3 linked regions of the Homo sapiens genome follow. The protein of the gene in region 2 purifies or fractionates together with the protein of the main gene of each other region. This does not show direct contact. Each region holds a gene or a part of one and is shown on either strand. Other genes may lie near its edges. The genes, in order: HAVCR2, LCP2 and ICOS.

What was found.
Region 1: the proteins of LCP2 (region 2) and HAVCR2 purify together in Homo sapiens (co-immunoprecipitation; one study listed by IntAct). This does not show direct contact.
Region 3: the proteins of LCP2 (region 2) and ICOS purify together in Homo sapiens (co-immunoprecipitation; one study listed by IntAct). This does not show direct contact.

What each region holds. Positions count from the first base shown.
Region 1 is NC_000005.10:157,102,411-157,106,062, forward strand, and holds part of HAVCR2 (hepatitis A virus cellular receptor 2 precursor), read right to left. Parts: intron 2,340-3,652; coding exon 2,256-2,339; intron 1-2,255. UniProt on the Homo sapiens protein: Cell surface receptor implicated in modulating innate and adaptive immune responses. Generally accepted to have an inhibiting function.
Region 2 is NC_000005.10:170,287,773-170,291,424, forward strand, and holds part of LCP2 (lymphocyte cytosolic protein 2), read right to left. Parts: intron 245-3,652; coding exon 198-244; intron 1-197. UniProt on the Homo sapiens protein: Adapter protein primarily involved in signaling pathways within T-cells, as well as other immune cells such as platelets, mast cells, and natural killer (NK) cells.
Region 3 is NC_000002.12:203,939,702-203,943,353, reverse strand, and holds part of ICOS (inducible T-cell costimulator precursor), read right to left. Parts: exon of another isoform or gene 2,920-3,652; coding exon of another isoform or gene 2,859-2,919; intron 2,838-2,858; exon of another isoform or gene 2,596-2,837; intron 1-2,595. UniProt on the Homo sapiens protein: Stimulatory receptor expressed in activated or antigen-experienced T-cells that plays an important role in the immune response.

The sequences.
Region 1 (3,652 bases), about 13 Mb from region 2:
GAGTTGGTTTGCCAGCAGCCAATTTACATAATGTTACATATTATAGACAAACCATTAAATATTCATTCATTTCAATTTTTTATTTTATTTTCCTATTTAGGAGCTACTGACCTATTTTTGGTTGTTTCAATATTTTTTCTCAGTCAGGCCCTTGAGAAGCTCAGAGGTTCGAGGTATTATTCCTATATTCCCATTTTTGTTGCCCTAGAGGGAAGGAACTAACAAACAAAAACTAAAGGGAAGGCTGGGCGTGGTGGCTTACACCTGTAATCCCAGCGCTTTGGGAGGCCGAGGCAGAGGGATCACCTGAGGTTAGGAGTTCGAGACCAGCATGGCCACCATGGTGAAACCCCGTCTCTAATAAAAATACAAAAATTAGCGGGGCGTGGTGGCGCGCGTCTGTAATCCCAGCTACTTGGGAGGCTGAGGCAGGAGAATGGCATGAACCTGGGAGGCAGAGTTTGCAGTGAGCCAAGATCGTGTCATTGCACTCCAGCCTGGGTGAGAGAGTGAGACTCCGTCTCAAAAAAAAAAAAAAAGGAAAGAAAAACTAAAGGAAAGAAGACTTCTGTCTGTGGTAGAGACAAGTATAAGGAAATGCACCACCTCGACAGGGAGTGAACTCCGTCTACAGCAAATGCCCATTCAGTGGTGATGTAGTAAAAAGTACTGGCCGGGCGCGGTGGCTCACGCGTGTAATCCCAGCACTTTGGGAGGCCGAGGCGGGAGGATCACAAGGTCAGGAGATGGAGACCATCCTGGCTAACACGGTGAAACTCTGTCTCTACTAAAAATACAAAAAAGAAAAAAATTAGCTGGGCTTGATGGTGGGCGCCTGTAGTCCCAGCTACTTGGGAGGCTGAGGCAGGAGAATGGCGTGAACCCAGGAGGCGGAACTTGCAGTGAGCCGAGATTGCGCCACTGCACTCTAGTCTGGGTGACAGAGCAAGACTCCGTCTCAATTAAAAAAAAAAAAAAAAGTACTGAAGCACAGGATGGGAAAGTGAGACTAAATGACCCTTGAAGTCCCTTCTAGCACTATGGTTGTAAGATTCTTTAAAATATAACAATGGCATACAATAAGTATCTGGTATAACTTTATTATTTTCTGTCCCCACCATATTTAGTTTCCTCTCTAATTGCATAAAAGATGTTGGCTACCAATCACTAAAGACTAACCAAAGACTGAAACTTTGGAGAGCTAAAACCAGTAACTATAGTAATAATAAACAGTTGAGTGCTTTTTATGGGCCAGGTACTATGCTGAGCATTTTACATACATTATCATGTTTATACATTACAACCACCTCATGACATGGGCACTGGAATTATCCTCATTGTAGAGATGAGCAAACTGAGCTTCAGAGAATTTGAGCAACTTGACTGAGGTCACAGAGCTATCAAGAACAGCTGAAATTAGAACCCATTCCACCTGTCACTGAAGTACTTTAACCACAATCTCACTGTGCCTCCTGATCTTATAATATTAACGACAACAGCTAACATGTACAAATTGTGGTCAGACATTGGGATAAACGTTTTAGACATTTTCTTATTTAAAGCCCATAAGGTGTGATTTATGAGATTTATGACATTATGAGGTGGGACTCACCTATTAACCTCATTTTACAGAAGAAAAAAAAAATGGAGCTCCAGAGAGTTTAGAAGAGACCAGGACACTGACAAGAAATACCTTAAAATTAACCTTCATGATCAATGTGACTTGACTTCTGCTTTATGCCCAGTGTTCTCTTCTGGAGCACCCTGAGTACGTCCTTGCTGAATTACATGAAGAATTTAACTATTCTTTCTGTGGCTGGAATCCAGGGAAGGTGATGGGCTTTATTCTAGCTAGAAGGCATCCTAGAAATCACCTAATCCAATGTGTCAGTTCCCAAACACAGACTGACACCAGTTCATGACCAAACATCACCAGTCCAGGGTCAGTCAGAAAATGTGGACAAAGTAATGAGCATTTCATTCAATTTAGTTAATATTTAAGTAAAATTAAAGACTATAAAGTTTATTAACTTTTTTCCAGTTAAAATTTAAGTAAAATAATCCTAAGCCAGACCATCTTTTTCCCAGCACAGGTGTGTCTCCACCACTTCCCTCTTTTCAAACACTATTTCAGGTGCACGGAGATATCCATGCCTCCACTCTCACACTGTTTTCTCATCTTTTTTTCCCACATTCAAAATCCTCTGAATTCAGAGCCAGCTAAAGATTCCCTCCTCTGCCCCATGCATAGTTACCTGGGCCATGTCCCCTGGTGGTAAGCATCCTTGGAAAGGCTGCAGTGAAGTCTCTCTGCCGAGTCGGTGCAGGGGTGACCTTGGCTAATGTCAGAAACAACATAAGGATGAAAATTATCTGAGAGCAGAAAGCTTATTTCAGGGAATCAAAGGGGCAGCAAGAAAAAAATGCGAAAGACAATTAAGAAAGAGAAATACACCCTCAGCTTCCAAACCTGCCTGGATACCTACGTTGAGAGTGTATCACACACTTCAAATGTTTGACAAAGGTAAGATGCAGTCATCATTGTTACATTCTGATTATTAATAGCGGAACTAACAGCCACACAAATGGCCATAATTACAGGTTGAAGACTCCTTATCTGAAATGCTTGAGATCAGAAATGTTTTAGATTTTGAATTTTTTTTTTTTTTTTGAAACGGAGTTTTGCTCTTGTTGCCCAGGCTGGAGTGCAATGGCATAATCTCGGCTCACTGCAACCTCCGCCTCCTGGGTTCAAGCAATTCTCCTGCCTCAGACTCCTGAGTAGCTGGGACTACAGGCATGTGCAACCACACCTGGCTAATTTTGTATTTTTAGTAGAGACAGGGTTTCTCCATGTTGGTCAGACTGGTCTCGAACTCCCGACCTCAGGTGATCCACCCACCTCAGCCTCCCAAAGTGCTGGGATTATAGGCATGAGCCACCACGCCCAGCCATGTTTTTATTTTTTTATTTTTTAGTATCTGCCTATACTTATGTTCCAATGAGCTTTTCCTTTGAATGTCATGTCAGTGTCCAAAAAGTTTTGGATTTTAGAGCATTTCAGATTTTGGTGCATTTTAGGTTTTAGATTTTCAGATTTGGGATGCCCAACCTATAAAGGCTTTTAATAAAATATTATCACATAAAATCCTTCTAATGGCCCACATGATCGGTATTATTGTCATATTTTATAGAAGAGGAGCTCACAGCGTTTCAATAACTTGCTCAGGATTATATAGCTAGTAAGAGGCAGAGTTAGATGTAAACTCAGCTCTATCTGGGCACAAAGTACATGTTATAGAAATCTTAAGTCTGTTCACCTCCCAGCATACATGCATAACCCAGCAGTTCACCATGCTGGCTGCACCTGGGGTAAAATCACCTGAGGTAGACTCTGTAAAAAGCTAATGCTTAGCATCTACCTCCAGAGATGCTGATTTCTCTGGTTTTTGGTAGTGGGGTTTTTTCTTCTGCTTTTTAAGAGATAGGGGTAGCCACAGTATATCAGCCAGGCTGGTCTCAAACTCCTGACCTCAAGTGATCCTCCTGCTTCAGCCTCTCAAAGTATTGGGATTATAGGCATGAGCCACTGTACCTGGCATCTATAGTTGTTTAAAAACTCTCTATGTGATTCTAATGAGAGTCAGGGTCT
Region 2 (3,652 bases):
GGGCTGGATCTGTGACTTCTGTTTTCCAGCTCTTCATGTAACTTCTGTTCCCCACATCCTGCCCTTGCCCTCATCCTTCCTACTTGCTTTCTTATTTCAAGCCGACAATGACATAGAACTGACCCAGCCCCCACTCACACTACTCCCCATTCCCACCTCTGCTCCCAGATCACCCATAGAGTTGGAGGAGTACTTACGGCACCCGGAGCTTGGGGAACTTCTGGATGTCATTTTCTGTCAGGTTCTGAAATGAAGACACATATGGCAGGCAGGTTACAACCCACAGAAAGGGCTCTGAGCAGGAGGGGAAGAGTGATACGTGAAACAATATAGGGAGTGGTGGGGACTGTGGCAAACAGAGGAGAAACCGCCCTGCCCACCCACCCTCCCCAAGTAGGCAGCCTCTAGATGTTTTGCCTAAAAGCCTGTGGGCCTGCTGTTGCTGGATCTGCTTTTACAAAGGGAATCCTTAAGTCTGGGTTTTATGTGAAATGCTCTGAGTTCCAAATGTTGGCAAATAATTTTGACTTAAACACTGTGAGAGCTAAATCTGTGAAACCAAACGACTCGTTGTGTGGGCTGCATTTGGCCATGTTAGGACCTCTTCCCTACACCCCAGACCTCAGGCCCTCTCAGTCTCCACAAGGTCAGCTGCAGAGAAGCCAGCCTGGAGGAGTCTGTGCCTCTTTTACCAACATCACATCCCAGAGAACCTCTTTCACCAGGGTTGTTGGTAGAATTCTCAAGATATGGGGATGCCATGAAAAGGCTTTCTTGAGGGAACTGAGAAGGGAGGGGAGAAAGAAACTCATATTTGTCAAGAACTAACTCTGGGCCTCCACCTCTTAATGCTTTAGTGAATCCTCACATCAACTCTGTGATGCAGGAGTTACCAGCATTCCCATTTTGAAAGAGAGAAAGCCGAGGCTCAGGGATATCAAGGGGATTTCCACTTGTGGGGGATGAGCTGGGGCTGGAATTCCACTCTGTGACATCCACAGTCTATTTTCTTCCTGCAAACCTCCATCCTACCACGTCTGATCCTTTTGACGGCCCCTGTGGCCTATGTTGGAGAGGATTATGGGGGGAAAGGTGAAAGGAGGCATCTGGAAGGGAGGAGGAGAGGAGAGCATGTCAGAATTGGGAGCAGAAAAGAGACTGGGCATGCTTTCCATAGAACCAATGATGAGCCAACAAAGGGCTCCACCACCATTCTAGTTAAGGCCAGAGGGCTGGGTAGTTAGGGTGGGAGCTCTGGAATCAGATGGGCTGGGTTTGAATTTTGGTTCATTCACTTAGCAGCTGTGTCATTTAGGGCATGCACTTTGCCTCTCTGAGCCTCAGTTTCCTTATCTGTAAAATGGGGACCATAATAATAATAATGATACCCACCTATCAGGATTGTGAGGACTGAGTGAGATGATGTATGTAATGTGTTTTGGCACAGTGCCTGGCACAGTGTGTGACTGAGAAATGGAGGAGTAAGATGAGGAATTACTACCCCTGGTGGGGAAGCAGCAGGGGTCTGGGTGAGTCTTAGAGTTTAGTGTTTTTGCTTCTTTTCCGTTCTGGGAGCTGCCTGTCAGGTTTTCTGACCACTGGAAAGATCTGGGCACTCTTCTTTGAGATCAGCTGGCACAGAGGCTGGGGCTAGGGCATCTTAGCAATGTGTTCACTGGATCCATCTGATCCAGCTCACAGGCATGGTTTCTGATCTGGACGCTGATCAGACCACCTGCGGCAGGGTGGGGCTGGTGAAGGGAGTCAGCCAGAAGTCCTGAGGGCATCGGGCTTTTGGTTAAGCTTCTTAACTACTCCTTTTCTTTCTTTCTTTCTTTCTTTCTTTTTCTTTCTTTCTTTCTTTCTTTCTTTCTTTCTTTCTTTCTTTCTTTCTTTCTTTCTCTCTCTCTCTCTTTCTTTCTTTCTTTCCTTCTTTCTTTCTTTCCTTTCCTTTCCTTTCCTGTCTTTTCTTTTCTTTTCTTTCTCTTTTTTTTTTTCATCACTGAGCAGCATCTCCCTGCTTCTGAACTACTCCCACTCAGGGAGGTACCAAGACTCATGTTTTGAGTGTGGTGTGAGGAGTTGAAGCCTTCCTAAGGGCTGCCAGAGGGGTGGCGGCTGAGCACTGAGCAGCTGGCCACCAGCTTCTGCTCTGCTGAGACGAGGGCGTAAGCTGAGGGAATTTCAGGAAGATTGTGGAGGAGGAGGTGGACATGAGCCTGGCTGGAGACACAGAGGAGCAGGGTGTCAGGAAAGAGGAAGACATTCAGAACGGGGACAAGAACTGTGAGGAAAGATGAGAGATGTTGAAACAGAATTTTTGGAGAGTTTTGCTATGTGATGTAACCCCCTCCTCCACCTTTTCCAAAAGCCTCCAGTAAACTCTGGGTTATTTGCATGATGATTTTGGAGTTAAGATTTATGGCTTTGTGGGAGTATGATTATATGCTGTGGGTGTTGAGAAGAGGGGTACAGAAAGAGGAAAGCCACAAACTGGGCCCTGGTGGGAGAGGCAATGTGGCAGACATGGCTGCTTGCCTACCCAATACCCACTCTCCCTTTGTTTTCCTACTGACAGGTCCTGGGTTTCATTCAGGGCAGTAAATGTGCTTGTTCAAAATATTTAACTCTCCAGGCTCCCTTGCAGATGGTGGAGGTCACATGACTCTGTTGTGGACAGTAAGATATAACCAAAGTCTGCTGGATGGAGCTTCTGGAAAAGTTACTACTTCCCTGGAAAAAAGGGAGCATGCATTTACCATTCACCATACACCTTCTCCTCTTTGCCTTTCTCCCCGTCTCCCTGCCTGCCATGGAGATATGATGCCTAAAGGTGGAGTAGCCAACTGACAACTGTTAGGACAGAAGCCACAGGCTTTTTCCATCGGTTAGATGAAGCCTGGGTTCTTGATGTCTTCTTTCACCATCCCCTGGCACCCGCCTATACATTTATTACTTGAAACAGACTGACCTTTATTTGGTTAGGCCACTGTGGTCAGGTTTCTGCAACATGGGGTCACATGCCTTCCCAACTGACACAAGTCTCAAGCTCCTTTTCTCTTCTTTTTATAACTTCTAGAAGCATAGCTTCTACCAGATAAGGATCTAACCTTTTCAGTGGAAAACAAAAATGGCAAAGAAGTAAAGAAAGAAGAGAGAGAAAGAAGAAAGAAAGAAAGAAAAGAAAGAAAGAAAGAAAGAAAGAAAGAAAGAAAGAAAGAAAGAAAGAGAGAAAGAAAGAGAGAAAGAAAGAGAGAAAGAAAGAGAGATGGAGAGAGGGAAGGAAGGAAGAAAAGAAAGAGAGGGAGAAGAAAGAAGACAGGGAAGGAAAGGGAAGGGAAAAGAGGGAAGGGGAGAGGGGAGGACAAGGGAAGGGGAGAGGGGAGGACAAGGGAAGGGAGGAAGGAAGAAAGGAAGGAAAGAAGGCAGGAAGGAAGGAAGGAAGGAAGGAAGAAAGGAAGGAAGGAAGGAAGGAAAAATAACTAGGGCCTTTCACTTTTGCCTTCAATAGCAGAGTGGCCCTGGATATTACAGAGCTGGAAAGGGTGATAGATTAGTAATTAGAGCTTAGATCAAGCGTCCCAAATTGTACCCAGTGCACTAGGGGTGGAGGGTGGGTTTCAGCAGAAGCTGCCTTTACATCCCCCAGTTG
Region 3 (3,652 bases), on a different chromosome or scaffold from region 2:
GGGAACACTCCATGGGACAAAAAAAAAATCTGAAGAACAGCCTTCAGCCCTAGACCTCCCCTCTGACAGCACCTACCCAAATGAGAAGGAACCAGAAAACCAACTCTGGTAATATGACAAAACAAGGCTCTTCAACACCCCCAAAAAATCACACTAGTTCACCAGCAATGGATCCAAACCAAGAAGAAATTCTTCATCTACCTGAAAAAGAATTCAGGAGGTTAGTTATTAAGCTAATCGGGGAGGGACCAGAGAAAGGTGAAGCCCAATGCAAGGAAATGCAAAAAATGATACAAGAAGTGAAGGCAGAAATATTCAAGGAAATAGATAGCTTAAAGAAAAAACAATAAAAATTTCAGGAAACTTTGGACACAATTTTAGAAAGGTGAAATGCTCTGGAAAGTCTCAGCAATAGAATTGAACAACTAGAAGAAAGAAATTCAGAGCTTGAAGACAAGGTCTTCGAATTAACCCAGTCCAACAAAAACAAAGAAAAAAGAATAAGATAATTTGACACCAGGGTACACACACTTACTTAATCTCTTCACCTAATAATCTAGTCCAATCCTCTCATTGTACAGAAACTAAAGCATCAGAGCTAAAGAGATTTGCTACGAAATAAAAAAACAAAAAGAAGCTTTTAACATTAAGCTAGATATGAAAATGAATTTCAGGTATTTATTTTCCTTCTAGGTATATTGGATATATTATCACCTTAATACTTAAAGTAGTATTCACATTGGTGCCACATATGTGTTCTGTGATTGAAAGGGTTATTATATATCAAAAAATTATTTTAAAGTGACTTAGATATGAAATTACATTGTACATAACACACTCATTTCCCTAGACATTTTCATTCATCAGCCATCATGTATTAAGCTGGGCTGTCATTGTACCTGGGTTCTTCTCTGATGAAGTCTAAATTCTTAATGATTTTCCCATCACTTATCTGCCTGTAGAAATGTACAGAAATGGATTCACATATAGAAGTAAATTTCATCATAATTAAATAAGTGCAAATAGGCACATCTATGAGATTTTTGCATTAGTCCTAGATAGTGCAAAGTAAACAGAACTTTAACTGTGAGTGCAGTAGACAGCTTGTTGTTGTTATTGTTGTTTTTGCATGTACAGATTCTTTGTTGCAAAGTCCTAGAAGAACACAAATACAGGCTGTAAAAAAAATCTATTTATCAAATTCAAAAAAGTTACCTTTAAATGATCATTAATTGCTTATTGAAAGTGCTGTGTCTGTGTCAACATGACTCAAATAAACAGATCCTAACAACACTCGTGGTCAACTGGATGGAAACTCCTGGTCTATCACCCTATTTGGGGACAACGTGTTTCTTTTTTTTCCTCAAGCAAAGTAGATACAAGCATCATTATGTTATACATGAACCAGAAGGAAGTTCATATCCCCAGTTTCTGACTCTCTAAACTTGCAAATCTTTACCTGTTTTGGTCAACCTTACAGGCCAAACTATTGAAAAAAAAAATCATTTCTTGACTAACACTTTCAATTTGTGTGACATATCCCCTACATACTTAAGTTCCACTTTCCAAAATATAATTGTGAATTTTTATAAGGTTTCAAATGCCATGTTTTTTTCACTTTGAATGACCAAAAAGTGCCATTTGACAGACCTAGTTTATTAGAACAGCAGTAGTACTGAGATGCCATTTACAGAGAAATTGTGATCTTTTCTTCAGTTATTGCAAGCTACAAATGATTTTAAAACTCATTTTTAAAAATTTGCAAAGCCCAGTAAGTCATTTTGCATATAAAACTCAATATTCTTAGAGTAGGGAAGCAGTATATGTTGTAGATTTTGCTGTTTACAACTGTGAATACTGGGATGAATTTTTTTAAGCCAAATAATGCTATGAATCTTACAGTGAGTAAATATAAGAATTTCAGTCCCCCCTACATGCCTGCATTTTGTTTCTACCAAGAAATGGGAATATGCTACTAGTAACTTAAAACTGAAATATCCATTTCATCTGAAGGAGTTGTGGTTAACAAGCAACAGCAAGTTGTGAAAGCCATTTTGTTCACAAATGATGAAAAAATAAGGGACTCAAGATCTTACATAAGAATAAGAGACATTTCTAGAAAGAGTGGGGAAAAACAGCATAAGGTATGATTAAACAAATACTAGGAAAAAAATGACTGAAATGAAGAATAAAGCTTGAGTCTAGAGATTGAAAACTTTCACCCAGTCTTAAAAAAAATAATAATAAATTAATAGAACAGCGGGGCGCGGTGGCTCACGCCTGTAATCCCAGCACTTTGGGAGGCGGAGGCGGAGGCGGAGGTGGGCGGATCACGAGGTCAGGAAATTGAGACCATCCTGGCTAACACGGTGAAACCCCGTCTCTACGAAAAATACAAAAAAATTAGCCAGGCGTGGTGGCGGGTGCCTGTAGTCTCACCTACTTGGGAGGCTGAGGCAGGAGAATCGCTTCAACCCGGGAGGTGGAGGTTGCAGTAAGCCGAGATTGCGCCACTGCACTCCAGCCTGGGCGACAGAGTGAGACTCCGCCTCAAAAAAAAAATTAATAGAAACACACAGAAAGAGAAACAGAGGGAGAGAGTTACACATATCCTGGAGGAATTCCTGAATTCCAATACTGAAGTAAATAGCTTTCAAGATTATGAAATTCTAGAGTTTTTTTTTTTTTTACAAAGGAATGAGAGTTAGACTACCATCAAACTCTTCACCCACAACCCTAGAAGCCAGCAGACAGTGGAGGAATATCTGCAACCACTAAGAAGAAAGGCTGCCATCCAGGACTCCTATTCCCAGGAAAGATATCAGTCACTCATCAAGGTAAAAGGAAGACACCCTTACCTGTACTGGAATTCAGAGAGTTGGGGGTATTTAACGAAAATAAGAGAAGTCTTCTGATCATTAGATTAGAACAGAGATCACAAGACAGGAGCAGATGTCCAGAATGATGTTGTCATTGAACGTATGTGATGTAAGTGTTAAGAAAGGATTCTTGAAACAGAAGAGAAATACTGTAAGAGGAAACCTAGCAATGATCTGCAACTGTAAGTTTTAAATTATTTCCACAAAACCCACGTATGGAGCAGGGTGCACTGTCTGGGGGAAGTGTGAGAGTGGGAAAGGAAGAACATTCTTAAGTTCTCATATCAGTGCAGGGGATGGGGACTAGGCACATCAGACAAAGGCATTTTCATTATTTTCATACAATGATAAACAAGTAGACATTCAATTAAGATTCTTTGAACATGTCAATTACTTAGTAAATTAAGAACTGTAGTCGACCTTCCAAATTAACCGGAGGCAAAGAGGAGAGTCAAAAGAAATTTCATCACACCAACAAAAATAAAAGAGAAAAAGAGGATACAACAAAGAAAAATAAGTAGTAAATAAACATAGAAATAAAATCAAGTAGAGGCTTATGCTGACTGGGAATGGCCTGAATTCATCTATCAAAAGAAAAAATTGACAACTGGGATTTTTGTTAAATCTAACAAGAACACTCTGGAAGGGGGTGCTGTCAGGAGATGACATTTACTCAGTCGTGGAGAGGCTAAGAGGGGCTCCAAGGTCAGTCATCTTCACAGACTTCTCTCAGACGCTGGAGACACTGAGGGGCTCTTTTCCCAAGTGGAATT